3 linked regions of the Homo sapiens genome follow. The protein of the gene in region 1 purifies or fractionates together with the protein of each later gene. This does not show direct contact. Each region holds a gene or a part of one and is shown in the gene's direction. Other genes may lie near its edges. The genes, in order: TSNAXIP1, PIBF1 and CCDC186.

Evidence for each region.
Region 2: the proteins of TSNAXIP1 (region 1) and PIBF1 purify together in Homo sapiens (affinity purification with mass spectrometry; 2 studies listed by BioGRID and IntAct, with this or other methods). This does not show direct contact.
Region 3: the proteins of TSNAXIP1 (region 1) and CCDC186 purify together in Homo sapiens (affinity purification with mass spectrometry; 2 studies listed by BioGRID and IntAct, with this or other methods). This does not show direct contact.

What each region holds. Positions count from the first base shown.
Region 1 is NC_000016.10:67,819,770-67,828,568, forward strand, and holds the end of TSNAXIP1 (translin-associated factor X-interacting protein 1), read left to right. Parts: intron 1-1,069; coding exon 1,070-1,182; intron 1,183-1,329; coding exon 1,330-1,456; intron 1,457-3,856; coding exon 3,857-3,950; intron 3,951-4,813; coding exon 4,814-5,010; intron 5,011-5,367; coding exon 5,368-5,503; intron 5,504-5,897; coding exon 5,898-6,067; exon of another isoform or gene 6,068-6,126; coding exon of another isoform or gene 6,127-6,147; coding exon 6,148-6,307; coding exon of another isoform or gene 6,308-6,382; coding exon 6,383-6,513; intron 6,514-6,667; coding exon 6,668-6,793; intron 6,794-6,922; coding exon 6,923-7,075; intron 7,076-7,193; coding exon 7,194-7,303; intron 7,304-7,479; coding exon 7,480-7,606; intron 7,607-7,703; coding exon 7,704-7,810; intron 7,811-7,983; coding exon 7,984-8,224; 3' UTR 8,225-8,299; downstream 8,300-8,799. Other genes in the region: CENPT (centromere protein T), read right to left, coding at 8,498-8,621, 8,705-8,799. UniProt on the Homo sapiens protein: Possible role in spermatogenesis.
Region 2 is NC_000013.11:72,776,001-72,787,016, forward strand, and holds the start of PIBF1 (progesterone-induced-blocking factor 1), read left to right. Parts: upstream 1-6,132; 5' UTR 6,133-6,349; intron 6,350-7,422; 5' UTR 7,423-7,469; coding exon 7,470-7,721; intron 7,722-11,016. Other genes in the region: DIS3 (exosome complex exonuclease RRP44), read right to left, coding at 1-92, 1,420-1,493, 2,187-2,380, 4,846-5,003, 5,605-5,832.
Region 3 is NC_000010.11:114,155,024-114,166,142, reverse strand, and holds part of CCDC186 (coiled-coil domain-containing protein 186), read left to right. Parts: intron 1-2,813; 5' UTR 2,814-2,874; coding exon 2,875-3,506; coding exon of another isoform or gene 3,507-3,510; exon of another isoform or gene 3,511-4,535; intron 4,536-8,462; coding exon 8,463-8,589; intron 8,590-11,119.

The sequences.
Region 1 (8,799 bases):
CCTGAGTAGCTGGGACTATAAGCACATGCCACCACACCTGGCTAAATTTTTTTTTTTTTTTTTTTTTTGAGACTGAGTCTCGCTCTGTCGCCAGGCTGGAGTGCAGTGGCGCAATCTTGGCTCACTGCAAACTCCGCCTCCTGGGTTCATGCCATTCTCCTGCCTCAGCCTCCAGAGTAGCTGGGACTACAGGTGTCCGACACCACGCCCGGCTAATTTTTTGTATTTTTAGTAGAGACGGGGTTTCACTGTGTTAACCAGGATGGTCTCGATCTCCTGACCTCGTGATCCATCCGCCTTGGCCTTGCAAAGTGCTGGGATTACAGGCGTGAGCCACCATGCCCGGCCTAATTTTTTTTTGTATTTTTAGTAGAGACGGGGTTTCACCGTGTTAGCCAGGATAGTCTCGATCTCCTGACCTCGTGATCCACCCACCTCAGCCTCCGAAAGTGCTGGGAATTACAGGCGTGAGCCACCGCGCCCGACTATGCTTTCTCACTGCATCCTCACATCAATACACTGTGACAAAGACTACCATCATCCCTATTTTACAGACGTGAGAACTAAGGCTCAGAGAAGTTGTGACATAGCTAATAAGGGACATTTGAGACTTAACCCGAGTCTTCTCTAACTCAAGAACCCACAGTCTTAATTATGAACCATGTTGAGAGATGTTTGTAAAACACATCAGGGCTGGCCAGGCACAGTGGTTCACGCCTGTAATCCCAGCACTTTGGGAGGCCAAAGTGGGTGGATCACGAGGTTAAGAGTTCAAGACCAGCCTGGCCAAGATGGTGAAACCACGTCTCTACTAAAAATACAAAAATTAGATGGGTGTGGTGGTGGGTGCTTGTAATCTCAACTATTCGGGAGGCTGAGGCAGAGAACAGCTTGAACCTGGGAGGCGAAGGTTGCAGTGAGCCAAGATCGTGCCACCACACTCCAGCCTGGGCAACAGAGCAAGACTGTCTCAAAAAAAAAAAGTCAGGACTGGGGGAGGAGAGATGGAGAGAAACATTAGGAAGGGGAGCAATGTTGCCATGGCAACCCCACCTGTACCTCCCTGCAGACTGGTCAGTTCTCCATGGGTGGGCACCTGTCCCCATGGCCCACATACACCAGTGGCCAGACCATTTTGCAAAATCGAAAACCCTGTTCAGATGACTACCGGAAGCGAGTAGGGTAAGCCAGGGTCAGTCCCATGGTGGGTGAGCTGGCATGGGCCAGGCTTTGGGCCAGGAGACAGGGCAGGGGCGTGTGTTGCCCCAGACTGAGGGCACAAGGGCCCCGTGGGGGTGCTGGCCACATATCAGCCACTGTCCCCTGCAGGAGCTGCCAGCAGCACCCCTTTCGCACTGCCAAGCCCCAGTACTTGGAGGAACTGGAAAACTACCTACGCAAGGAGCTCCTCCTGCTGGACCTGGGCACAGATTCCACCCAGGAACTAAGGCTGCAGGTCAGAGCCACAGAAGAAACTTGGGGAGGGCGGGGGAAGGGTGGGAAGAAGCTTCACCTACCGGCCGGGCACAGTGGCTCACGCCTGTAATCTCAGCACTTTGGGAGGCCAAGGCGGGTGGACCACCTGAGGTCAGGAGTTCAAGACCAGCCTGGCCAACATGGCGAAACCCCGTCTCTACTAAAAGTACAAAAATTAGCCAGGCATGGTAGTGGGCACCTGTAGTCCCAGCTACTCAGGAGGCTGAGGCAGGAGAATCGCTTGAACCCTGAACCCGGGAGGCAGCGGTTGCAGTGAGACAAGATCACACCACTGCACTCCAACCTGGGCGACAAGAGTGAGACTCCGTCTCAAAAACAAAAAAAAGCCTCACCTACAAGGACTGAGCACCTCAGACCTTCAGGGGAGACCCACCTCTCCCAGCTCTCCTGGGTCTCCTTCCCTGAACAGAAGCATGAAACATCCCATGAAAATGCCAGTGAGGCCGGGCACAGTGGCTCATGCCTGTAATCCCAGCACTTCGGGAGGCTGAGGCAGGAGGATCGCTTGAGGTCAGGAGTTCAAGACCAGCCTGGTCAACATGGTGAAACCCTGCCTCTACTAAAAATACAAAACCTGCAGTGGTGGTACACACCTGTAGTCCCAGCTACTCAGGAGGCTGAGGCAGGAGAATTGCTTGAACCCAGGCGGCAGAGGTTGCAGTGAGCCGAGATCATGCCACTGCACTACAGCCTGGGCAACAGAGTGAGACTCTGTCAACAGAAAAAAGAAGGCCAGGCACGGTGGCTCACACCTGTAATCCCAGCAGTTTGGGAGGCCGAGGCAGGCGGATCACCAGGTCAGGAGATCGAGACCATCCTGGCTAACATGGTGAAACCCCGTCTCTACTAAAAATACAAAAAAATTAGCCAGGTGTGGTGGCAGGCACCTGTAGTCCCAGCTGCTCGGGAGGCTGAGGCAGGAGAATGGCATGAACCTGGGAGGCGGAGCTTGCAGTGAGCCAAGTTCACGCCACTGCACTCCAGCCTGGGCAACAGAGTGAGACTCCATCTCAAAAAAAAAAAAAAAAAAAGAAAACGCCAGTGAGCAGGCAAGGCTGCAATGTGGATCCAAAAGTCTCCTGAGGCTGGAGTTTCCTCACCTGAGTCAGGTGGCCTGGATGCTGTGCCCAGTCCCTGCAGCTCTGTGATCCCCAGTACCCAGGTTGGGCCACTGGACATCAGTGAACGTAGCCTGAATGCTGGCAGTTGGGCAAGCAGGGGTCACACCGTGTTTACCAGTCCAGTGGCAACAACCCCAAGCTTAAGGAACCAGCACAGATGCATAAGGAGGGAGGGAGGAAGAGAGAGAGAGAGAGAGAGAGAGATCAGATCCAACCCAGATACCAGTGTATAGTAGGGAGAGAATCACCAAATCTGCTTAAACAAGGATGATGACAGAGAATCCCTGCCTTTTGACTTAGTCATTGACTAAAGCATTTACTGAGCACTGGCTATGTGCAAGTGCAAGGCCCTGGGCTGGGGCCTTACATCGATCTCCTGAACAGATAAGGAAGAAAGCATACCACTATGGCGTAGTGGGGCTGGGCTTCAAACTCAGGGCTGACTCTGGAGACTGTGCTCATTTCAGTGAGCAATGCTGCCTCCAGAAACCTCCCATGTGTCCAAATGGGACAGAAGACCACACCCCTACTTGCATGTCAGGATGCAAGGGTACAACCTTCAATCTCCTGAATCTACCAGGCTCTAAGATGGGGAGAGGTTACAAGTGAGAGGCCAATGATGCAGTGTCTAGAAGGCAAGAGGCTGGCTGCCTGGAGAGCCAGAGAGGGGCTCAGGCACAGAGTGGATGTCTGTCTATGGTCATGGCAGTCCACTAGGCCTCAGAGACAGCATCAGGACAGGCCTCCAGAGAGCTGCCCCCCAGGCTCCGTGGCACTGTGAGGTACCCGGGTGGTATCTAGGGCATTTACTTGAATATAAGTGACCTGGCAGCCTCATGCTGGAATACTGCTAAGCCCAGTAAAGAAAAAAACAGTGCCAGGCACAGTGGCTCACACCTGTAATCCCAGCACTCTGGGAGGCCGAGGTGGGTGGATCACGAGGTCAGGAGATCGAGACCATCCAGGCCAACATGGTGAAACCTCATCTCTACTAAAAATACAAAAATTAGCCAGGTGTGGTGGCGCGTGCCTGTAATCCCAGCTACTCAGGAGGCTGAGGCAGGAGAATCACTTGAACCTGGGAGGCAGAGGTTGCAGTGAGCTGAGATTGCACCACAGCACTCCAGCCTGGGTGATGGAGCGACACTCCGTCTCAGGAAAAAAGAAAAAGAAAAACAGTTCCCCACTAAGGTTGGCAGCTGTGGGCTAGGAGATGATGGGTTCCCTTTTCTTGCCAGCCTTACAGAGAGATCTTTGAGTTCTTCATAGAGGACTTCAAAACGTACAAGCCATTACTATCCTCCATCAAGAATGCGTATGAGGGGATGCTGGGTAAGAATGCACCTCCTGCCAGGCGTAGTGGCTCACGCCTGTAATCCCAGCACTTTAGGAGGCCGAGGCGGTAGATCACTTGAGGTCAGGAGTTTGAGACCAGCCTGGCCAACATGGTGAAACCCTGTCTCTAGTAAAAACACAAAAAAATTAGCTGCGCATGGTGGCACACACCTGTAATCCCAGCTACTTGGGAGACTGAGGCAGGAGAATTGCTTGAACCTAGGAGGTGGAGGTTGCAGTGAGTTGAGATCACACCACCGCACTCCAGCCTGGGCAAAAGAACAAGACTCCATCGCAAAAAAAAAAAAAAAAAAAGAATGCAGCTCCCCTCCTTGTCCCAGCCTGGAAGGGGTGGAGAAGATCCTATTCGACCTTCTGGTGCTCCACAGCAGGGCTGGGGCAGCTACCAACTGGGCCTTGAGGTCACCAAGGCCCCTCAGCCATTCTGCACAGACTGTTCCATGATAGGGCACCCCAGAGCACCTGACAACACCTGTCATTGAGAAGCACAGGGGGGCAGTCCCTGTTGAAAATGGAGTGAACCCCAGGAGAGAGTCAGCACCTCTGGGAGTCAGCAGGCTCCCCTGCCAGGCTCAGGAGGTGCAGGGCATGGTGCAGCTGCAGGACTTAAGGCTGTAGGGGAAAGGACATAGGAGAGACCCCGGTCTTCATCTGAACTCTGCCCTTTGTTTAAAATCAAGTGCAGGAAGGCCTGAAACAGGGACCATGGCTTTGAACAAGGCATGCAGAGATTCTTGGGGTTTGCAAGCGACATAGCCACTCACCCATGACCTTAGGGTGTCTTCTGGCTGTTTGTTCTCCATGGCCCCAAAGCAGCTCTCCCACCTGTCTCTGCTTAGCCCACCAAAGGGAGAAGATTCGGGCTCTGGAGCCCCTGAAGGCCAAGCTTGTCACTGTGAATGAGGACTGCAATGAGAGGATCCTGGCCATGAGAGCTGAGGAGAAATATGAAATCTCCCTGCTCAAGAAAGAGAAGATGAACTTGCTAAAACTCATCGACAAAAAGAATGAGGAGAAGATTTCATTGCAGAGCGAGGTGAATGGAAGTGGTGTGATGATGACCAAGTCCCCGAATTCCTGCCAACTCCACGACAAGGGTGACCCCCTACCCTGCTCTGCCTTTCTACGGAGAGTGACACACTGAGCCACCACCTTCCCCCAGAGCCTTGCTAACTCCACCCTCTGCCCTGCTGCTAGGCTCAGTACTTTCCCCACAGGGGGAAACATTGGCACCTTGCCGAATTCTCAGAAATGGCCAATCTCCTTCTTCTTTCACCTTTCCTGTTCACAGTCCCTGATGGGGCCCCCCAGAACCCAGCCCACTCCCTGGGGTGACCAGCTGCATACAGGGGTCCAGGGGCAGCCCCTGACCACACAGCCACCTTCTTGCCAGGTGACCAAACTGAGGAAGAACTTGGCTGAGGAGTACCTGCACTACCTCAGTGAGCGAGATGCCTGTAAGATCCTCATCGCAGACCTGAATGAGCTGCGGTACCAGCGGGAGGACATGTCATTAGCCCAGTCGCCAGGTAAGCCTGAATTGGGAATCGGGTTTCTCTCTTCTCTGAGACGCTGGAAGACTCTGGTCTCACCCCTAAGCCCCATTCATTCAGCATTCCTAAGACCTGCTCATTCCATAACCATTCAGAGGGGAGATGTCCCTGCCTCCCGCAGGGCTGTGTATCTTCTGAGTTGAACTGAGAATTGTAGGAACACAGTTGGTAGCTGAGGCAGCCTAGGCTCCCAGTGGGCTGGACAGGCCTGGTACTCAGTTTCCTGGGCTTCTAGACTTTAGCCTGAAACCCTAGGCTGGTAGTGCTGTGGGCAAGAACCAGGGAACCCCAAACAGGAAGGGCAGAGGGCTTCAGGCAACCCCTGAGAAAGCCACGGTGACACGGGCTGGTGGGCCCCTTCCCCTGGCAGGCATCTGGGGGGAGGACCCTGTGAAGTTAACCCTGGCTCTTAAGATGACCCGGCAAGACCTGACCCGCACGCAGATGGAACTCAACAACATGAAGGCCAACTTTGGAGATGTGGTCCCCAGGAGGGACTTTGAAATGCAGGAGAAGACCAACAAGGATCTTCAGGAGCAGGTGCTGGCAGGCAGGCAGGGCCAGGAGGGTAGGACGGGGTCTCACAGGTGGGGGGCCAGGGCCAATGTCCTTGCCCACAGCTGGACACCCTGAGAGCCAGCTACGAGGAGGTTCGCAAGGAGCATGAGATCCTCATGCAGCTGCACATGAGCACGCTGAAGGAACGGGACCAATTCTTCTCTGAGCTGCAGGAGATCCAGCGCACTTCCACGCCGCGGCCTGACTGGACCAAGTGCAAAGGTGAGGGCAGCCGGCAGGGCCCCAGGTCCTGCTTACATGTGGGCCCAGACTCCAGCTCCCTCTCCCCACATGCAGATGTGGTGGCTGGGGGCCCAGAGCGCTGGCAGATGCTGGCTGAGGGCAAGAACAGCGACCAGCTGGTGGACGTGCTCCTGGAAGAGATTGGTTCGGGGCTGCTGCGGGAGAAAGACTTCTTCCCTGGTCTGGTAGGGGAGGCCCCAGGAGTGGGGCTTGGGCCAGAGTCAGAACAGCCATGCCCTGCTGCTCAGACAAGCTTTTGGGGAACCAACTGGGGATCTTCCCTGATTGGGGGTGGGGCCACAGATGGGTCCAGAGATGAGCTGATATCCTCCCTCCTAGGGCTATGGGGAAGCCATCCCTGCTTTTCTTCGGTTTGATGGCCTCGTGGAGAACAAGAAGCCAAGCAAGAAGGACGTGGTCAACCTCCTCAAGGATGCCTGGAAGGAACGTCTTGCTGAGGAGCAGGTCAGATCTCACCAGCCACTCTGGCCCAGCATGGTCTTCAGATCCAGAGTCCTCTGCAGGTCCAGAGGTGACAGGGATGAGGGCCAACCAACCGTAAGACTCTGACTGAGCATTTCCTCGATCCCGCAGAAAGAGACGTTCCCAGATTTCTTCTTCAATTTCCTGGAGCATCGCTTTGGGCCCAGTGATGCCATGGCCTGGGCTTATACTATTTTTGAAAATATCAAGATCTTCCACTCCAACGAGGTTATGAGTCAGTTCTATGCAGTCTTGATGGGAAAGGTGAGCTGGGGCCTATTCCCCTTGGGGAGACTGAGAGGGGTCTTTGTCCCTAGCATAGACCAGCTTTGCCCCCACCACTCCCAGGAACAGCAGGTGAATAATGCTTCTCTCCTTATAGCGGAGTGAGAATGTGTATGTCACCCAGAAGGAGACAGTAGCCCAGCTGCTGAAGGAGATGACAAATGCTGACAGTCAGAACGAGGGGCTACTAACCATGGAGCAGTTCAAGTGAGAGGCCAGTCCAGGCTACCCCCAACTCCTACCCAACTATTCCTGCATCTGTAGGGAAAAGGGGCACCTGGTGGGAAGGGCCACAGCCTCGGCACTCACTCCCTTTTGAGCACTAGGGAGAGGCACAAGCAGGCCTCAGCAGGTCCCTGTTGGCCCTCATGTCTCCCCTACAGCACTGTCCTCAAGAGTACCTTCCCTCTCAAGACAGAAGAGCAAATCCAGGAGCTGATGGAGGCAGGGGGCTGGCATCCCAGCAGCAGCAATGCAGACTTGCTCAACTACCGCTCACTGTTTATGGAGGTGGGTGTGTGGGGTCCGGGGACTGGCCTGGCCCCTGCCCTAGCCTTGGCTGGACCCTACCCAATGTGCCCTCCCCCTGACTTGTGGCCCCTCCCAGGATGAGGAGGGCCAGAGTGAGCCCTTTGTGCAAAAACTCTGGGAACAATACATGGATGAGAAGGACGAGTACTTACAGCAGCTAAAGCAGGAGCTTGGCATAGAACTGTGAGTGACCCTCATCCATAGGCGAGTCCCACAGGCTGGGCCCCTGAAGCCCCTGGGTCTCCCTGTGCACCATGCACCATCCACTGCTCAGCCCAGCACAGAGGAGGGCACCTGGGAGTCTGGGGCACGGAGAGGAGGGGTCAGGGCCTGTCACTCTCTTTCCTGTGGGGCAGCCATGAGGAAGTGACTCTGCCCAAGCTGCGAGGGGGCCTGATGACCATCGACCCCAGCCTGGACAAGCAGACAGTGAACACCTACATGAGCCAGGCCTTCCAGCTCCCTGAGTCGGAAATGCCAGAGGAGGGTGACGAGAAGGAAGAAGCCGTGGTGGAAATCCTCCAGACTGCCCTGGAGCGGCTTCAGGTGATTGACATCAGGCGTGTGGGACCTCGAGAGCCAGAGCCTGCAAGCTAGGAACTTGTGGGCAGCCTGCGTACTCCAGTCCTGCTAACCCCTAGCTTTTAATATAAAAGTGTTTGTCTGAATCCATGCCATTCTCCAGACTGTGCTGGGGAGTTGTGGGGGGGAATCAGTCCCTGCCTGGCTGGCCCCAGGACATGCACCAAAATGCAGAATATTCTGTTTATGACACTTTATTGATGCTGGGGGGGTGGGGAGGAGACCTGGAGAAATATGTGGGGGCAAGAGTCCCCAGGTGGGGACAGGGAAAGTGTTGAAGCCTGGCCACTACTGGGCAGGGAAGACAGAGTTGCCACTGTATGCACAGGGGATGAGCAGCTGCCGGTACTCCAGGGGCAGGTGCCGCTCCACTAGCACGTGCAGTGAGACTTGGTCAGTGACCAGGCCCTGCCTGCAGTGGAGGAAGAGAAGGGACAGGCAGAATCAGCACCAAAACTCCCCCAGCCAGCACCCCCACACCTTCCGCCTTCTCACCGCCGCATCAGCAGCTCCAGGTCCTCTGGCTTCACAGTCTTGCGGCCAGCATGAGCAGCAAATACCTCCAGATCATCACAAAGATGCTGGAAATA
Region 2 (11,016 bases), on another chromosome or scaffold:
CCTTGAAGGTATGTACCAGATTTTATGCCTTGCTGTAGCTTACTTAAGGGAAGATGCTCTGAAAATATTATTTTTCCACTTTCTATTTCATTCTATGAAAGAAGCAAACCAAAAGATGCCGCTAATAAGTCTTCTGTTCACTCAATACACAACTATTATTAATATCAGAGAATTTTTGAAATCTACATTATGATATACACAACTCTGAATAGGAGAGAAGATAGCAGTGTTTCTTATAGGCCAGTGCTAACAAAAACAGCTTTCTATGATGAAGGAAGTATTCATTTTGCGATCTCTAATATGGTAGCCACTAGACACAAGTTTCTCTTGGGCACTTGAAAGACAGATAGTACCACCAAGAAACTGAATTTTTAATACATATTAAATTTAAATAGTCATATATAACTAAGTGGCTACATATTAGGGCAATACTAAATCTGTATTTCAAAAATCAAACCCAACTTTTATCTTCTCATTTCCTTTTGGTTTCATAAAGTATCATAAAGGTAAGAAGGGATGACAGAAGTGTAAAGACTGGATTTATGTATAATGTCCTATCACTTAAAACCTATTTCTATAACAAGGGCTACCATTTATATTTACCATACCTATGTGCCAGGCACTAGGATGAAAATTGTATTAATGCTACAGTTATCATCTTATTTGATCCTTATAACAACACTATGAAGTTATTATTGCTAAACATTATATATTTATATATAAGAAAATGAATGCTCAGAATTTAATTATTCCCTTAGCACTCCTTCTCACATCAGCTATTGTAATGACTCCTTTACTCACCTCTCTGCCTCTAATCTTTCCTGGATAAAATGCTTAATGTTACACACTGACATGAGAGTGGTCTTACAAACAAATACCATTTCCAATCATTCTCTCCTGCTCCACCAATCCACATTCATATACCATTACTTTTTCTTAGCCTGACATATAAGGAAGGGATCTCAGAATCCTTTCCTCTTCATAGCAGCCCTTCAGGGAGATCTTTATAAATCAATTGAAAAATTACTAACCTACAGAATAAGTTCTAGGTCTTTACTATCTGGACACTCCCCTCCCTCTTCTTTCCTCTGTCTGCAGTGCCTGCCACTTCATTTGTCAGCAGCTACTCTTTATTCACAAATCAGCCATGGACTCCGTTCATTTTTTCCTCAACCAAACAGTGCTACCAGGTACCAGGCCCTACTCAGGTTAATGGGAATATATCTATTTTAGAAAGTTAACTCCTTTAGGAATGGCATTTCAATAAGCCTATGACATCCACTCCTGTTTATAACACAACTATTCCAAATCCAGCTTACCCACCGACATTCCAATTTTTAAATTTGGTAACTATATGCCTAATATTCCAAAGTGGCTATTTTAATATTTTTACTTTTCAAAAACAAAACAAAAACATACCCCTTCTTCAGACAAACAAGCAAGACGATCTATGAGTTCGGGGTTAGCAGTTAGGCTCTTTACATATTCTTCACCTGAAAAAATAAGTTTATGTTGTTTTTGATAAGTGTTTTTTCCTTAGATATGAAAAAAATGGATAGTCTTGTTTGCGACAGTATACACGTCATTCTTTCATTCATTGAGACACACTGAGAGTCTCACTCTGTCTCTCAGGCTGGAGTGCAGCGGCGCAATTACACATCACTACAGCCTAGAATCCCTGGGCTCAAGCTACCTTCCTGCCTTAGCCTCCCGAGTAGCTGGGACTATAGTTACATACTACCATGCACGGCTTTTTTTTTTTTTCCTGTAGAGCTATAGTCTCCCTATGTTGCCCAGGCTGGTCCTGAACTCCTGGTCTCAAGCAAGCCTCTTGCCCTGACCTCCCAAAGTGCTGGGATTACAGCACCTGGCCTCAATTTATTTAAAAAACAAAACCCAAAAATCTGTTGATGTGATCATACCTAAGCAGAAGCAGGGGTTCCAGTATATTTATGAGATTTCATTGCTAAACCAGTTGCAAATAGTGAGGGGAAAATTAACAGCCACTGGGCACAACATATTTAGGTTAAAAACTATGTGAAATTTAAAAATACAAAAATATCACATGAAGTTATATAGGACTACGAAAATACTAAATAGTAAAGTGAACATCTGACTATAGGCCTAATGATTATTTTTACACGCATTTGCAAACATGCACTAAGTACTTCTACATTTAGACTTACAAGTGAAAGCTGGTATTCCTTCTTCTATGGCTTTCTCTTTGTTTCTCCTGTCATTTGTTATGAAGATAACTTGCAGCTGGTTGTCTGCTGACATTTTTTTCAAATGTTCATTGTACCATTTTGCTGCTACTCGAATCGCTCTATCATTCCTGTCATTAGCATTTTCTCCCTGTTCTTGTTCTACATAGGTTTCTCTAAATGGAAAGAAAAAACGAAATAAAAGGAAATCAGTAGAAACAAGGATATGTGAAAACTCTTAGCACATAAATGCTTAACCACTAAACTAGAAAAAGTCAATGGTATATCTTTTCTCTTGAATGTATTCAGATGTACACCTCAGAGAAGAAATCAAGATTCTTATAATTAAGTTTTTAAGAAACAATTTGCTTGGAAAAGAAGAAAATTATGTTATTAAGGGGACAAGAAAAAGGCTAATACAATTTTATTTCCTAAAAAGAAAAATTCAAGATCAGAATTTATACTTTAGGTTGAGACACTAAATAATAGTTTGTTGACAAATTATAATACAATTTCACAGGTATGATAATCAGATTTCATTCAAACTGTAGGTTAATAGCAATTCCTAAAAGCTACAAATAGTATAATTAGATCATTTATAATCAGAATTCTACAGTCATTAATAAATAATGCATATAAATTATCCATGGTAAACACTAATAGCTGAAGCTATGTAGAGACTGAAAAGTCAGGTATATTAATAGATATTACGTATTTCTTCTATCTAAACTCCCAAGTATGTCAACACATTCATCTATTTCTTTAAATCTGTTCATCAAAGCCAGGTTTAAGTACAACAGCAAAGTTCACTACAATAGCTTCCAGTACTTAATGGTAATAGATTCAATTTAATAATTTGATTTATATTAATAGTTTTAGAATTATTTTATTCCTCATCGTTGAATGCACTTGCTAATGCTTTTTTTTTTTTTTTGAAACAGAGTCTTGCTCTGTAGCTCAGGCTGGAGTGCAGTGGCATGATCTCAGCTTACTGCAACCTCTACCTCCGGGTTCAAGTGATCCTCCCAACTCAGCCTCGCAAGTAGCTGGGACTAGAGGCATGTACCACCATAACCAGCTAATTTTTGTATTTTTAAGAGACAGGGATTTTCCAGGTTGGCTAAGCTGGTCTGGAACTCCTGGCCTCAAGTGATCTGCCCACCTCAACCTCCCAAAGTGCCAGGATTACAGACATAAGCCACCACGCCCAGCTGCTAATGTTTTAAGCTCATCAGTGAAAGACACAGTCATAAATTTTTGAATTGGTTTTAAACTTGGGTCTTTCTGCACTGAAAAACAAGTGATGTTGCTATTTCTGGATTTCAAGGAGGTACTAACAATAAGAAGCCTACAAGGGCTTTACTGGTATTCTTTACAAGAACATTGAAGTTTGAGATATAAGAATCAAGAAAGTTGAGATATTAAGGTTTTTAAAAATGTGCATAATCTGATGGAATTTCATTACCAGAAGTCTACACTCTAATCCAATGGTTCTCAATTGAGTGAATTCACCCCTCAGGGCATTTTGTATCATTACAACTGAGTGGTGGTGGTGGTGGTGGTGGTGGGGGGGGTAAGGGGTGGTGATCCTGCCAAATAGGCTAGGAACACTGTTAAACATACTACAATGTATAAAACAGCCTTTCCACCACAAAAAAATTATTCAGTTCAAAATATCTATAATGCCAAGATTGAGAAGCCCTGATCTAATCCAATAAAAGTACCATACTCATCATAGATTATTTATGTAATATAACGTAATAGGCAATATCATATTTTTGAGACCACACACTGAGTTCAAAGGTCTTGAATCTAAAAGCACAACAAAGAATTATATTCCTGGCCAGGCACGGTAGCTCATGCCTGTAATCCCACCACTTTGAGAGGCTGAGGCAGGTGGATCACGAGGTCAGGAATTCGAGACCAGCCTGACCAACATGGTGAAACCCTGTCTCTACTAAAAATACAAAAATTAGCCTGGCATAGTGGTGCGTGACTGTAATCCCAGCTACTCAGGAGGCTGAGGCAGAAGAATCGCTTGAACTTGGGAGGTGGAGGTTGCAGTGAGCAGAGATCACACCACTGCACTCCAGCCTGGGTGACAGAGTGAGACTCCATCTCAAAAAAAAAAAAAAAAAAAAAAAAAGAATTCTATTCCTTAACCTAATCTTGCTCAATGTAATCAGCTGCAAAGTATTAAACTTTTAAAAAGACCATTAAGAATAAATCTACTTTCTATTTTTAAACAAAATAGAAACTTCACAAACTCATATATTTTATTACCCTCTGTTAGTTGTTCACATAATATGGTATTCCAGGAACTTAAGCAAATCTCATCTTCCAAGATTCTATGGTCCAACTCATGCTAAAACCAATTCAAAATGAAAACATTTTGGAAATTAAAGTACCTATTGTAGTCTAGGAGTCAGCAGACCTTGGTTTTAGGCTTGAGCCCATCAATGCCTGTGTGACCTTAGAGAGATCCACTTAGCATTATCTTCTGCACAGCCATGTAAGAATTAAATAAGGTATGAAATCTATCACTTATCTTCTGACAATGTCATAAATTACTCACAGGAACCCTCTCCCGAATTTTGCTAATCCTGTGGTTTTCTGATATTTAACGTAATATTCCTCCTACCTATGGTGCTCATTAGTGAAAGTATAGAAATGCTTCTCTTGGTTATTAGTCACATCTCGGATGCGTTTATATACGGGGGCACTGCGATTTCTCACTTCTTGAAGAACTGTTTGTAGCACAATTACATTCCTGATGGCAGGGTCCTCAAGAACATCAATCTTAAAGAAAGATAAAGTTAATTTTTCCTATATTCATTTGTAAATAGCTCTGTCAAACATAAAATCCTGTTTTATGTTGGGCATAAATACTTTATGTTTTAAAAACACTGAATAAGTTAAGCCAAGAAGCTATTTGGCTATAGAAAACGAGACAATAGTCACTAAACCCTTCAGATCTATTAAAAAAAGCACACTTAAACAGACCAATCACAAGACTTCGTAGAATTAAGGGTATTAATAAAGGAATACGTTGGCCCACATAGTTTTTTGTTCCTAGGCACTTACAAGCTGCCTGGGAGTCGCAGGCTGGAGGCCACAGAAGCCCAGGTCCCCGGCCTCCAGGCACTTACAATCTAAGGCAGAAGAGACACCAGGAGTTAGAAAAATAACGTGTCTGAACTACGACTCCAAGAACTAAATTTTTTAAAGCACAAGGAAAAGAACCTCGGCCTGGGGAACAGGAAGCTTCGGTCCCGAGGGGGTTTCCCTTTCGCTAGGTATGTGACACTGCCAAAGACCCGCCTCCCTGGGCCTCAGTTTCCCTGTCATACCCCCTTGTCCCCGTGGGGCCGCGCTGTCCGCGGTTCGCCCGCCCACGCACCTGGTGCAGTAACACATTAGTGTCGGGCAGCAAGTAGTGCGGTTGCGGGCAGACGCTGCTCGCCGGGTCCTGGGGCTGCGGCTCCAGGGCCGGCCCCTCGTGCGCCCCTCCACACGCTGCGCACCCGGGCGCACCGCAGCCGATGTCGTCTCGCAGGTAGTGCTCGCGCACGATCTTCATCACGCCGCCCGCCCGGGTCTTTTTTAAGAACGTCTTGGACTTGAGCATCTTGCCTCGCCGCGCAGAATCCTAACCCCAGCAGCGCTCTTCCAGCAAAAGGCGTCAATCTAGAATACGCCTAACCCCGGAGGTTCTTCCCTTTCCATTCCCGGATATTAGTAACACTTCTCGCGGGAAAATGCCGAGATAAACATTGGTTGGCTCTCTGACGGCCGCGGGGATTGGGCGAGAGTGGGGAGGGGCGGCAAAGCAAGGCGAGGAGCCATTTCCGCCCGTGGCCTAGGCGGGGCTTCCTTCTGGACGCCACCTCACAACGTGTGTTGCTTTCCGCTCCTCGGAACATCCGGGAGAGTTGACTTCCGGCGGCTTGTGGGAGTGCTGGTTCTGTCCTCCTTGCGGGTGCGGAGATGGTTGTCTTGGTTACGGGTCCTAACGGTCCCCTGCCTTGAAATCCCTTGTTGAGGGCCTGCAACCTTGTGCTTCCGACCGGAGACGCCTTTGGTCCCTCGGTGTCTGCACTGGCTGCTGGTCAAGGCTTCAGTGTGGAGTAATTGACACTTTCGAGGTAACTTGCGACTATCATCGCTTTCTTTCCCGCGTGGGGCAAGGAATCCCCCGAGCTGCCAAGTTTGGGGCTTAATTTTCACGCCGAGTGTATAGGCAGTCCCCGTCTCGGGCCCTTTGTAATCGAGGAGAGAATTTGTCTTTGAATTCACTTTTTCTTACCTATTTCCCTTCAAAAAGAAGGAGGGAGGCCGATCTTAGTATAGTTCTCGCTGTTTCCCCTCCACACACCTTTCCTTATCATTCAGTTTAGAAAAACTGAAATATTTAATAGCATAATTTGTTATATCATGAGGTATTAAAACAAGGTAGTTGCTAACATTCTTATGAGAGAGTTAGAAGTAAGTTCTATTTAGAATTTCTTGAATTTTTCTTATATCCTGTTGTTTTCATTCTGCTATCTATAAAAAATGTTTTTGTCCCCGTTTTCCCTATTTAAAACATCTTCAATGATGCCTCATTGCCTGTAGAATAAAATCCAACCCTATTTTGACATTTAAGGCCTTCCAGTCTTGATCGTTAAGGGCGTGTGTGTGTGTGTGTGTGTGTGTGTGTGTGTTTGTGTTTGTGTTGGGGGGGCGGTGAAAGGAGTAACTATTCCAAGACTTGGCTTTGTTTTTTTACTTCCACTTACGTATCATTAATAACTGCATGATTTCTCCTTTTTACCATGCCTGTCCAAATCTTTAAAGATTCTAAGTGCTACCTCTGTGTAACGTTTCCCTGACCAACTCAGACGTGATTTCTGTTATCTTTGAGCATGTGTTGGTTTTAGTGGTGCCATTCTTGATTATAATGGGCTTTTTTCTTCATCTTGTACATTTCTTTGTTTCCTCCAAGTAAGATTCCTCCCCGCAGGAACTGTTTTTTTAAGTTTCTCGAAGGCTGACTTCATATTAGGAATTAATGTGTTTGATTTGAGCATTAACTTAACTGCAATAATCTGTTCTAGATTTGGGATGCACTAAATTGCCTAATATTTATTTAAGGAATCCTTAGTCTCTCTTTAATACAGTCCATGATTTCTGTAGTTAATTTTATAGTACATTTGAATTAATGTTTTTTAACCTACAGAATATTAAAATCAAATTAGAGAAGAAAACTGATCCATAATAATAAAAATGTCTCGAAAAATTTCAAAGGAGTCAAAAAAAGTGAACATCTCTAGTTCTCTGGAATCTGAAGATATTAGTTTAGAAACAACAGTTCCTACGGATGATATTTCCTCATCAGAAGAGCGAGAGGGCAAAGTCAGAATCACCAGGCAGCTAATTGAACGAAAAGAACTACTTCATAATATTCAGTTACTAAAAATTGAGCTATCCCAGAAAACTATGATGATCGACAATTTGAAAGTGGATTATCTTACAAAGGTAAGATCAGGTTTAAATTTTGTGTTCTATATGCTTTATTGTCTTCAAACGGCAGGTAAATAAGAATTAAATACACACATTATCTGAACTTGAAATGATACATTTATATTTCTTGACAAGTACAGCCTTTAAATAATTTTGGTGTTCATAGAAGTAGAGAATAGAATGGTGGTTACCAAGGGCTGGCATGGTTAGGGGTGAAGGAGGGTTGGGGAGATGTTGGTCAAAGGATACATAATTACAGTTGAATAGGAGGAATACATTCAAGAGATCTATTGGACAGCATGGTGGCTATAGTTAATGACATTGTAATCTTGGAAAACATTGTGTTTTTGAAAAACACAGCAGATGTTAAGTGTTCTCATTACTAAAATAACTATGTGAGGTAAAACATTTTTTAATTAGCTAGAGTTAACCATTTCACAATGTACGTATACTTCAAAACATTATGTTGTACATGACATATACACACAGTTTTATCTGTCAGTTGGGATCACCTGAGGTCAGGAGTTTGAGACCAACCTGGCCAACATTGTGAAACCCCAGCTCTACTTAAAAAAAAAAAAAAAAAAAAATTAGCCAGCCATGATGGTGGGTGCCTGTAATCCCAGCTGCTCGGGAGGCTGAGGCAGGAGAATTGCTTGAACCCAGGAGGCAGAGTTTGCAGTGAGCCACAATCGTGCCACTGCACTCCAGCCTGGGCAACACAGCAAGACTCTCAAAAACTAGTAATAATAATAATAATAATAATTGGAGGCCAAGTGCGGTGGCTCACACCTGTAATTCCAGCACTTTGGATGCTGAGGCCAGTGGATTGCTCCAAGCTCAGGAGTTCGAGACTACCCTGAGCAACATGGTGAGACCACCCTTGCTACTAAAAAAATAAAATAGCCCCGCGTAGTGGTGCTGCGCCTGCAGGCCCAGCTACTTCCGAGGCTGAGGCGGGAGAATCACTTGAATCCGGGGGCAGACATTGCAGTGAGCTGAGATCGTACCACTGCACTCCAGCCTGGGTAACAGAGTGAGACCCTATCTCAAAAAAATAATAATAATAATTTAAGTATTGAAATATGGAGTGATTTAAACGTAGATATGGATAAATTACTTTTGTAGGCTCAATTTAAAAAATCTAACATATGAGGTATTTTGTTGTTTTTTGTTGTTGTTGTTGGAGACAGTCTTGCTCTGTCACCCAGGCTGGAGTTCAGTGGCACAATCTTGGCTCACTGCAACCTCCACCTCTTGGGTTCAAGCAATTCTCCTGCCTCAGTCTCCCACGTAGCTGGGATTACAAGTGCTCCCCACCATGCCCAGCTAGCTCTCTGGGATCACTTTTATAAGGGCACCAATCCCAACAGTGAGGGTTCTACCCTTATAACCTAATCACCCCAAAGGCCCCAACTTCCTGCTACTCACATTGGTGATTAGGTTTCAATATACAAATTTTGAGGGGAGAAAAAAAAATAAGCACACAAGACGTATTAGCCGTTGTTGTTTTCAACTAACATAGCATCCTTATCTGTTTCATCCCTTTCATTTTCTGTGCCTTTTATGGCCATCGGACTGAATTTGTTTGTTATTTGTCTGTGAATAGACTATGAGGTCCATGAGGACGGGGATGTTTTTGTATTCATGGTTGTATTTCCAGCACTTAGAACGGTGCCTGACACAAATTAAGTGCCCAGCTATTTCTTAAATGAATGACTGAACCCCATTTTGCTCTGATTAAACAAAGCCACTAGGTGGTTAATAGCATACCCAAGGCCATTCAGATGAAAGTGATAGAGCCAGATAGGATTCAAACCTAGGAAGTCTAAAGCCTATACTCTACACAAGTGAAGCTCCAAACACTTTCTTTTAGGTACCCTATACAGTCACCTACCTAGTCTAGGTCACTTGGTAGTTTATCCATGCATCCAGTGGTTTCCCATCCCTATTCCCTTACTCTTTTTGCATTTCACATGAACTCCATCTACCTTCACCTCTCCAGACCTTAGTGCAACTCATTGAAGAAACCTGAGGTTATCTCCCATTCATTAATTCACCCACTCAGTCAACAAGTATTTTTTTAAGTGCCACCTGTATACCATATCCAGACTTACATTTTGTTCAGCCACCTCTTGTATTATTTGTTTTCAACTTGCATTGTCCTTGGTTGTCAATGGCTTTGCTTCTTTTTAGGTGTAAGCTTTATATTATAGAAATGTTGGTTGATTCATGACAGGCTCTCTAGTGTAACAAATCCAAATTACAGTTCTAGATGCACACAGTTTGGGTTTTGAATTCCAGCCTTACTAAATTCCTTAATGTTTTTATTCCGTGATTTCCTATAAAATGATAATAGTATTTATTCCGTGGAATTATCGGGAGGATTAATCAATGTATGTAAGCTCATAGATGCTTGGTGTATACTAATAATAAACTTATTATTTACATATTATTTTATTTGTAGCTATACTTACTCAGCACAATATTATTATTTTTCTACTTCCATGGTGCTTAGTGTAGTTTTTGTTGTGGTTTTCTAGTTTGACTGAAAATGTAGAAGATTGCAATAGTCGTGTTCCTGAGTTTGACACATAATCATCATTGATCCCTGAAAGGCTGCTGTTTTTCTAATGTATTTATTCTTTTCATTCCTATAGCTCATTCCATTTCTTAATGCAAACATTTTAATGTTTTGTTTACATGTATTCTTGAGAATGTGTATCTTTTAACTTTACAGAAATGTAAATTATATGCTTTGTTTTAGTTCTCATCTCTTTTTTCCTACTCAGCACTGTTTTTGAAGTTATCTATTACTTTGTATACATCTAGTCCTTTGCTTCCAACTCTTATGTAATTCTTTGTGTGCGTCTACCAGTCTTTCTACTCCTACATTGCTAGGCATCCAGATTGCCTCCAGCTCCTTGCAACACATGCAGCATTAGACATTTCTCTTCTGGACCTCTGTGAGCATGTCTTTGACATATATAAATGTCTCCTTCATTTAACTAAGTGTACTGCCAGGTTATCTCCAAAATAGCTGCCCTGCTGTATATTAGTAGAGTTTTTTTCTCTATCATACGAGCACTCAGGATTCTCTGCTTGAAGACTCTTTAGGAATAAGATGTTTGCTCTCAAATATATGAAGAAATACCTATTGTAGAGTTAGCCTTCCATAATTTATTGAACCTAAAGCACCTCTGTTGTAAGATGCATCATTACATACATTGCTAAGGTTAAACACTTCCAGTTGAATTGTTAAGTGCCTTAGATTGTAAAATGCATTCCAATTTTAGAGATGTTAAAATGT
Region 3 (11,119 bases), on another chromosome or scaffold:
TTTCCTTACTGGGTCTCCAGTCATACAGTGTAAAACACTCCTAACCTCTGTACTTTCCTCTGCAGTGCAGTCCTTTAAGAATCCCTTGGTCCGATGTAACTTTGCCGCCACTTTTGGTTACTACAAAAAACTTATTCCAGAAATTAAGACAGGTTCTAGCCATTAAAAAAAAAATGAAGTCACAAACTCATTGTTTTCTCTGAAGAAAAGTTGAAGCTGTTCCCAGCTGCTTGGCATGAAGAGGTATAATTTGACTCAAAGATGTGCTCCCTCTCCTTACTTTTTTTTTTTTTGAGACAAAGTGTCTCGCTCTGTTGCCCAGGCTGGAGTGCAATGGCACGATCTTGGCCCACTACAACCTCCGCCTCCTGGGTTCAAGCGATTCTCCTGTCTCAGCCTCCCGAGTAGCTGGGATTACAGGCACCCACCATAATGCCCGGCTAATTTTTTTTTGAGACAGAGTCTCGCTCCGTCGCCCAGGCTGGAGTGCAGTGGCGCAATCTTGGCTCACTGCAACCTCTGCCTTCCGGGTTCAAGCAGTTCTCTGCCTCAGCTCCCCGAGTAGCTGGGATTTCAGGCGGCTGCCACCACGCCCAGCTAATTTTGTATTTTTAGTAGAGACAGGGTTTCGTCGTCTTGGCCAGGTTGGTCTTGAACTCCTGACCTTGTGATCTGCCCTCCTTGGCCTCCCAAAGTACTGGGATTACAGGCGTGAGCCACCACGCCCAGCCCACAAGTTATATCTTAAAGTGAGTTACTTTGGGTGAGGTAATGTAGGTGGCAGTGCCTCTGTTTGAGAATTATTTTATTTTGTCCTAGATTTTGGAATACAGAGTACTTACGAGGTCTTTTATTTACTCCGTTTATTTGTATTGTCTAAACCAAGCCTTTAATACTAGTGTGTGCTTTGGCTTGGTTATAAAATATCTGCAGCAAAATAATGATAATTTGGTTGTTTGGAAACATATTTATACAGAGAGGTAGAGTATTTAGGCCAATGGCTGTCTTAGTTGATGCCCCAGAGGGCAGTCTAGAAATTAGCATATTTAGCAAACAAGCTGGTCTACTTTTCCTTTCTTACACTTATTCCTCCCATTTTCGACATTCCTAGAATAATGTTTCTCAAATACTAGTGTTACCATTTCTGTGCTTACAGGCTTTAATTAAACAAATATTTGAGAACCCACTATGTGCTAGAAACTCTGCACTGTAATTAAGTCTACAAGTCACTGTGATTTACTATGATTTGTTCTTAACAAAATTCACTCCTGCTTAGCCTTCTATGGAATCTACCTGACCAGTCTTCTCTCTCTCTTTTCATCATCCTCTGATAACCACCTTTATCCCAGCCTGATGTAACCATGCATGTTTTGTTATTTAAAAATTTAGTATATCTCTCCATTAGTTTTCCATTAGTTTATATCTCATGTATAAACTAGAGCTATTTTCCATTAGTATATCTCTTATCTGGAATTATTGCTCTGTTATTTCTGTCAAAACTATGATCTGTCCTCTTTTTAATCTAACCTCACATGGTTTCAGTAACTCATTACCTTGTACATGCTTTGTTGATACCTGACAAAAGAAGTCAACAATTTTTTTTATCAAGATTGTGGAAATATTTTATAATTATGTGTTGTGGGATAATATTTGAAGATGACTAATTGTCATAAAATGGCTAGAATAGTAACCTCCATAAACAATATAAAAATCTATCCTATGCCGGGTGCGGTGGCTCACCCCTGTAATTCCAGCACTTTGGGAGGCCAAGGCAGGTGGATCACCTGAGGTCAGGAGTTTGAGACCAGCCTGGCCAACCTGGTGAAACCCTATCTCTTCCTAAAAATACAAAAAATTAGCCAGGTGTAGTGATGGGCACCTGTAGTCTCAGCTACTCGGGAGGCTGAGGCAGGAGAATTGCTGGAACCTGGGAGGCAGAGGTAGCAGTGAGCCGAGATCTCACCATTGCACTCCAGCCCGGGCAACGACAGTGAGACTCTATCCCAAAAAAAAAAAAAAAAAAAAAAATATATATATATACACACACACACACACACACACACACACACACACACACTCTAACTTGGTCAAATTAATAAAGTTGCTTTTATTGACCTAGGCAGTGCATATGGGCTCCATTTTATTTGTACTGGACATTGTTTTTTTCCTGATGAGAATGTTTGAAAATCACCATGGTACTTCCTGGATTCCTGCCTGGATGAAAAACTAATTTCTACCAGGGATTCTTTACACCCTGACTTCATTATGGCTCAAATCTAGATCTCTGGGCTATAGATAGTTGTGTCTTGTTATTTAGGTTTCCTTCTTAGTAAATTTTTATTTTCTTTAATGTGCGTTGTTTTGTTATCTTGGTTTGTGATTTCTAGTGCTTTTATTGGTGTATTATTTCTCCAGTATTTTCTTACAGATTTATGAGGTAGTCTTTTTTTCTTTACAGAGCTGAAGGAATTCTAAGCATTCTTTGGCACTCGTCTAGTTGCTAGCGTTACTCCTTACCTAACATCTTATGGGGATGATTGGAGAATGCCAGACTACAACTGAAATTAATTAATGAAGTTGTTTGACTGAAATGAAGGAGGAAAGACAGACTTTGCAGTGGCCCTACTGCTTGTAGCTAGCCAGCTTGGGTTAGCTGTCCTAGTCCTTTTTCTTTTTTCTCAAGGACAGGCTTTTAAAGGAATTGTTAGTGATAAAATTTGTGGTGTTAGTTATTCCACATCACAGAGTGTGTGCAAGTTTGTATGGGGTTTTGGTTTAAAGTGGTTTTTAATTTTGATGTTTCAATTTCTTAGATGTAAAACGAAGATCAGGAGCAGATTTGAAGAATTACAAAGTGAATTGGTGCCAGTCAGCATGTCAGAGACAGACCACATAGCCTCTACTTCCTCTGATAAAAATGTTGGGAAAACACCTGAATTAAAGGAAGACTCATGCAACTTGTTTTCTGGCAATGAAAGCAGCAAATTAGAAAATGAGTCCAAACTATTGTCATTAAACACTGATAAAACTTTATGTCAACCTAATGAGCATAATAATCGAATTGAAGCCCAGGAAAATTATATTCCAGATCATGGTGGAGGTGAGGATTCTTGTGCCAAAACAGACACAGGCTCAGAAAATTCTGAACAAATAGCTAATTTTCCTAGTGGAAATTTTGCTAAACATATTTCAAAAACAAATGAAACAGAACAGAAAGTAACACAAATATTGGTGGAATTAAGGTCATCTACATTTCCAGAATCAGCTAATGAAAAGACTTATTCAGAAAGCCCCTATGATACAGACTGCACCAAGAAATTTATTTCAAAAATAAAGAGCGTTTCAGCATCAGAGGATTTGTTGGAAGAAATAGAATCTGAGCTCTTATCTACGGAGTTTGCAGAACATCGAGTACCAAATGGAATGAATAAGGGAGAACATGCATTAGTTCTGTTTGAAAAGTGTGTGCAAGATAAATATTTGCAGCAGGAACATATCATAAAAAAGTAAGTTTTTTATACCTTTAGGTTATTTTTTTTCCCTCACAGGCACAGGGATTCGAGATAAAATTCTTTAAAGGAAAATACCATTTTGTTCATTTTTACTTGCACATTAGAATCATGCACATAGTAGTTGAACAATAAATGTATAGTTGCTGAATGTGTGAGCAAATGTCGAGTTTTTCAGATATCTGAGTTCAATATGTTAAATAGTGTAAATGTATTAACGTGCTAGAAATTTTTATAGACAACTCAAAATTTTTCACTTTTGAAAGAATGTAGAAGTATATTGTCAAAACTAAGAGAAACTCAAAAGGAAATAACAAGTCATAAAATTCCACAACTTTTTCTTAAAATCTGCATTCTAAATTCATTGGTTTAAAACATTAAAATTTAGAGAACAGAATAATTGATTATCGTTCAGTAAATAATAATACAGTTTTGGATATGTGAAGTTCTGTTTTCATGATAGTTTAAAATTTACCATCTTAACCATTTTTATGTGTACGTTTCAGTAGTGTTATTATATATTCACACTGTTGGACAACCAATCTGCAGAACTTTTTCACTTTGCAAATCTGAAACACTGTATTCGTTAAACAACACTATTTCCACTTGCCCTCAGTCCCTGGCAACCACCATTCTACTTTCTGTTGCTGAGTTTGACTACTCATGATACCTCATGTAGGTGAAATCATATACTTTTCATTTCATGACTGGCTTATTTCATTTAGCCTAATGTCCTCATTTATCCATGTTGTAACATGTCAGAATTTCATTTCTTTTTAAGGCTCAATAATATTGCATTGTATGTATATACCACATTTTGTTTATTCATCCATTAATGGACATCTGGGTTCCTTCTGCTTTTTGGCTGTTGTTAATAATGCTACTGTGAACTTGGGTTTGCAAGTATCTCTTCAAGACTCCAAGGCCCTTCTTGATATTACCCCCAAACAAATGCCTGCTGTTGCTATTCATATCCTTACTGTAATACTATATTATGTGAATAAACTGTATGCTTTTGTACTTGAACCATCAGTGCTGCTGCTATTCTTGCATTTTATAGGGTAACTTTCTCATTTTCCTGTAGCCTGTACCTATTCTTTTAGACCTTCCTCTTGAGATTATCTCTGATGCCTCTTCCCACTTTACTGAGATCTAGACTCTTACCATTTTCATACCTCCCTTATAAATTATAAGATGTTATACATTTAATAATAATAGCAGTAAACATGTATATGCTGATAATTAGGTGCCTGGTATATTACATTTATTAGTTCATGGATTCTTCACAAGAACTCTCTGTGACATGTGCTGTTATCCCCATTGTACAGATGAGTTACCTGAAGCGCAGAGAGAGAAAAAGTAACTTGCTCAAGGCCACATGCTAACAAATGCAAAGTTAAAATCTGAGCTTTGTGAGTGGAGCTTTAGAGCTTTTTCAAATACGGTTATTAGAAATGAACCAGTTACAAGGTGTTAAATTTACCTAAAAATATGAGGAATAGGGTAGAAAATTGGTTTCTCTTTTTTGCTTCATCCTGTCAGAACAGTGACAGCACGGGTGAGTGGAATAATCATAATTCTGATGTCTGGTATTTGGAAGATACCCATTGGCATTTGCCAGCTCTGTTGTCTTGGCCAAGTCAACCTCTTTGAGTGAAAGATTTTTCACCTTAGAGTGACAATACTTACCTGATGGAACTGTTTGTGGACATTAGGACATTACACAAATGTCAGATGTTATTTTAAATCAAGGTTAATTTTTGGTTATACACATGATGTTTTTAATTCCAAATAAAATACTTTGTGAGTCAGGTTAACTCTAAAACAACTAAATTTTTTTCTTAACTTTTTTCTTCATCTAATTTTCTATGAAGAAAACTTCCTTTTACTTTCTTTGAAATTTTAATGAATGCATCTATTTCCAAATCTTTGTTTATACATTCCCTCATTTTTCCCCCAGCTTTATTGAAATATAACTGATAAAATTGTATATATTTAAAGAGGTACAATGTGATGATTTGATATACATCGTGAAATGATTACCACAATCAAGTTAGTTACCACATCGGTCACATCACAGTTACCTTTGTGTGTGTGTGGTGAGAACATTTAAGATCTACTGTCTAAACAAATTTCAAGTGTACAATATGATATTATTAACTGTTATCACCATGGAGTATATTAGATCCCCAGAACTTACTCATTTTATAACTGAAAAGTCTGTAGGCTTTGGCCAATATCTCCCCTTTTCCCTCACCCCCTGTGCCCTGGCAAGCACCATTCTTCTCTTTATTTCTGTTCTTTGATTTTTGAACACATCAATATTACTGTCTAAGGTTCCAACCAAATTTTTTTTTTTTTTTTGAGGTGGAGTTGTGCTGTGTCACACAGGCTGGAGTGCAGTGGCGCGACCTCAGCTCACTGCAACCTCTGCCTCCTGGATTCAAGCAATTCTCCTACTTCAGGCTCCCAAGTAGCTGGGACTACAGGTGCCTACCACTACACCCGGCTAATTTTTGTATTTTTAGTAGAGACAGGGTTTTGCCATGTTGGCCAGGCTGGTCTTGAACTCCTGACCTCAAGTGATCTACCTGCCTCAGCCTCCCAAAGTTCTGGGATTACAGGCGTGAGCCACTGCGCCTGGCCCAAAAATTCTTTATTTTATTTTTTTGAGATAGGGTCTTGCTCTCTTGCCCAAGCTGGAGTGTAGTGGGTGTGATCTCAGCTCACTGCAGCGTCAACCTCCTGTGCTCAAGTTGTCCTCCCACCTCAGCATCCCAAGTAGCTTGGACAACAGGTGCGCACCACTAGGCTCAGCTAATACTTTTGTGGTTTTTTTGTTTTAGAGATGGGGTTTCACGATGTTGCCCAGGCTAGTCTGGAACTCCAGAACTCAGGCTATCCACCCACACTGGCCTCCCAAAGTGCCAGGATTACAGGCATGCACCACTGTGCCTAGCCTAAAATTCTTTTTTTTTTTTTTTTTTTTTTTTGAGACGGAGTCTCGCTCTGTCACTGAGCTAGAGTGCAGTGGCGGATCTTGGCTCACTGCCACCTCCGCTTCCCAGGTTCAAGCGATTTTCCTGCCTCAGCCTCCTGAGTAGCTGGGACTACAGGCACGCCCTACCACACCCAGCTAATTTTTGTATTTTTAGTAGAGACGGGGTTTCACCATGTTTGCCAGGGTGGTCTCGGTCTCTTGACCTCATGATCCACCCGCCTCCACCTCCCAAAGTGCTGGGACCAAAATTCTTAATTAAGAACAGTTGTCTGTATATAGAATATGCATTTGGCACATAAGTAACAAATTGAGTGTTTACTGCTTTTCACTTCCCCCTCCCTTTGTTGTTCACTTGTGAACTATAGGCAGGACTCTTGTGTCTCAAGTAGTTTTCTGTAGCAATTGAGTATGCCTCACATAAATGATCTAAGTTAAACCACTGTGTCATAAAAGGCTTGAATAAACATGCATATATTTGCCTTTTTTCCAAACATTTGTATGATTGTTTCCTCACTGATTCCTAGGCTCAGCTGTCACCTTCTCAGAGAGGCCTATCTAGACTACTTATCTAAAATAGCAGCTCAAGTCACTCTCTGGCTTTTCGCTCTCCTTTATTTTTCTTAATAGGATTTAATCACCAGCTGACATTTTATTATATATCTAGGGTCCATTTTTATTTTATCCCCTAGAATGTAAGTTCCACGAGGGCAGGGACTATTTGCTGACATATTTCCCACATAAAATAGATGCTGAGTAAGTACTGGTTGAGTTAATGAGTGATCTTCAAAGTAGAAGGTGGAAAGGCCTGGGGCTTTGGAAGTATACCTGGATCCAAAACAAAATTGAAAGTTCAACTGCTTACTAGCTGTGTGACCTGGAACAAGTCTTAGGCTTCAGTTTTGTTTTGCTGTTAATATTTTTATTTTATTTTTAGAGACAAAGGTCTTATTCTGTTGCCCAGGCAGGAGTGCAGTGGAGCTCACTGCAGCCTGGAACTCCTGGGATCAAGTGCTTTTCCTGGGACTCCTGGCATGAGCCATCATGCCTAACTAGTTTTTTTTTTTTTTAATTCGTAAAACAGAAGTGATGGTAATGATAATAATTTCATAGACTTATTTTGAATACTAAATGAAATAATACACTTTTTTAAATTAAAAAAGCTAAATTTAGCCAATAGCAAGTGTGCAATAAATGTTAGGTTACAGCTATTGCTAATTAGTCCTAGAGTACTTGCTGTTAGCTTTCTTAGGCATCTTACATTTCTAAGCACTTTGCAGGCAGTTTTTGAGACTTTATTTCTGTTTTTCTAGGGGAATTCAAGATGATATTTCTGCTTAGATTTTATTTTGCTGTTTTACATTGACTGTACATTATAACTATTAGACTATCATTAAAATATTTTTAAAATCTGAAGCAAGACTTTTCAACTTTAGCAGTATCGCCACTTGGGGCCAGATTCTTTGTTGTTGTTGGAGTTGTCTTGTGCATTGTAGGATGTTTAGCAGCATCCCTGGCCTCCATCCACTAGATGCCAGTAGCAGCCCCTACCCTTGTTAGGACAACCAAAAATGTCTTCAGACAAATGCCTGGAAGGGCAAAATTGCCCGTGGCTGAGAACCACTTATTTGAAGAGTGCCAGTGCTGACAGGATTGGTGCATAATTGAGATACCTGAAGGTATAAATCTGGAAGGGTGTGCTTTTCATTCATATGATTCTATTTTGATTTGAAATATTCATATTTCTAGGGAAAAGTTAATAGCCTAATGGGCCAGAGAATCTTTTGCAAAGTATTATGTTTCACTATAAAATGATTATTTAGGAATGTTAATTTATTAACATAATGAATAATTATAGATATCTGTACCCTGATCTGTAAAGAAATTATATTCCACATATTATTTTATCTCCATTTTAAATTATGTTTTACATACACTGCCCTTTTTATATTTAGGTTAATTAAAGAAAATAAGAAGCATCAGGAGCTCTTCGTAGACATTTGTTCAGAAAAAGACAATTTAAGAGAAGAACTAAAGAAAAGAACAGAAACTGAGAAGCAGCATATGAACACAATTAAACAGGTAAAAAAGACAAAAATCTTCGAAGACTATACTTCAATTAATAAAATAAATACATTCCTGGCAGCCGATTGTGGCAGCTCATGCCTGTAATCGTAGCACTTTGGGAGGCCAAGGTGGGCGGATTACTTGAGCCCAGGAGTTTGAGACCAGCCTGGGCAACATGGTGAAACCCTGTCTCTACAAAAAAAAAAAAAAATAGAAAATTAGCTGCATATGGTAGCATGCGCCTGTAATCTCAGCTACTAAGGAGGCTGAGGTGGGTGGATCACTGGAGCCGGGGAGATTGAGGCAGCAGTGAGCTGAGATCGTGCCACTGTACTCCAGCCTGGGTGAGAGAGTGAGACCTTGTCTCAAAAAAAAAAAAAAAAAAAAAAATTCTGAAAACTTGCATGTAGGTTGGAGTTCTATAAGGTAAATCATATTTTAAATGCAGAGAATTGCATGGCATTTAAACCATTCTCCTTTACAAAGTAGGACTCATAGCCTGATGTATTTCCTTTTATGTAAGTTTATTCTTATGCATGTGACTCCTGTACTGCATGTAGTAGAACATACTCTGTTATGTTCAAAATAAGCAAAAAGACGATTTGAGTTGACAGTCAACTAGACTGTTGTTGCCAACAGGGAGGAAGCAATGGAAATATAAAAGTTTATGTCTGGCATTAGGATGTTTTTAAGTTTATATTTTGGTATGGTTCCATTCTCAGTATTTTTAAAAACTATATTGTGAAGGCTGGCTGTCATACTTTAGATTGTATCTGGCTTACTGGCTTTCCTAGCCTGTCCTTTTCCTTCTTTTTTTTAATTTATTTTTTGTTTTTTCTTTGAGACAGAGTTTTGCTCTTGTCACCCAGGGTGGAATTCAGTGGCACAATCTCAGCTCACTGCAATCTTTGCCTCCTGGGTTCAAGTGATTCTTCTGCCTCAGCCTCGGGAGTACCTGGGATTATAGGCGGCCACCAACCACACCCAGCCAATTTTTGTATTTTTATTAGAGACAGGGTTTCACCGTGTTGGCTAGGCTGGTCTTGAACTCCTGACCTCAGGTGATCCACTTGCCTTGGCCTGGCCTCCCAGTTCTGGGATTACAGGCATGAACCACTGCCCCTGGCCTCTTTCTAGTTTTTAAATGAACTCCTCTGATGCATGAATCAACAAAGTGAGTATTCAGACTAATAGGAAAGCTGAGTTGCTCTTTATTTTTGAGGTGCTTTTTCTTCTGTGAACAGGATTAGAAGCATTCTAGCCTTAAAAGTATTTTGTCTCATCTTTCAAAGAAAGTTATATAATGAAAATAACAGTAAACAATTGGTAAAACAATTTTTCACTTGATGCATGATTGGAAGGTGACTGTATTTGTAAAATTGTATGTATTTAATCCTGATTTTTATGTGCTCTAGGGTCCCCACATATAAACCAGAGTTAGAATGGTAAAGTGTGAGGGAGTCTTAACAGGCTAAATCCATATTTCGGTAGTCAGGTCACTCAATGACCAGAAACTTCAGACCGAACAGGTACAATGGAACCAGAGCCCTTCCTTTCATGAGCTTATTAGTGGGCTTTTTTTGTTGTTGTTGTTGTTTTTAAAGAGAAAAGCTTTTCCTTCTTTATTTTATTTCTAGATCTGCACTATCTAATGTGGCATCCACCAGCTGCATATAGCTATTGAGCACTTCAAAGGTAGCTAGTCTAAATTGAGAGGTGCTGTAAGTGTAAAATACACATGTAACTTAGAAGAGTTAGTATAAAAATAAAACAGCTCATTTTTTTCATGTGGATTGATAATATTGGAATGATAATATTTGGATATATTGGGTTTAATAAACTCACTTGTTTGTAATTTTTATTTTTTATTTTATTTTATTTTATTTTATCTTTGAGATGGGGTTTCGCTCTTGTTGCCCAGGCTGGGGTGCAATGGCGCGATCTCGGCTCATAGCAACCACTACCTCCCAGGTTCAAGCGATTCTTCTGCCTCAGCCTCCTGAGAAGCTGGGATTACAGGGGCCCGCCACCAAGCCTGGCTAGTTTTTATATTTTTGGTAGAGACAGGGTTTCACCATGTTAGCCAGGCCAGTCTTGAACTCCTGACCTCAGGTGATCTGCCCATCTTGGCCTCTCAAAGTGCTGGGATTACAGGCGTGAGCCACTGCGCCCAGCTTCTTTTTACTTTTTAAAGTGTGACTACTAGAAAGTTTAAATTCCACATGTGGCTTGTACTTCTATTGCTCAGTGTTGCTCTAGATAATTTTGTAATAAGGAAAATTAGTATATGTGTACTATAAGATTTAGGTCTTTTTCAACAGGTTTATTGAGATATAATTAACTTTCCACACAGTTCACTTATTTTAAGTGTACAATTCAGTGACTTTTACCTGTGCAACCTTTACCACAATTTTAGAACATGTCATCACCCCAAAAAGAAATGCAACACACATTAGTAGTCACTTCTCATTTGCCTCCAACAGTACTCCCTCAACCCTGCCCTAGGGAACAAGTAATCTTTCGGTCTCTATATATTTGCCTGTTC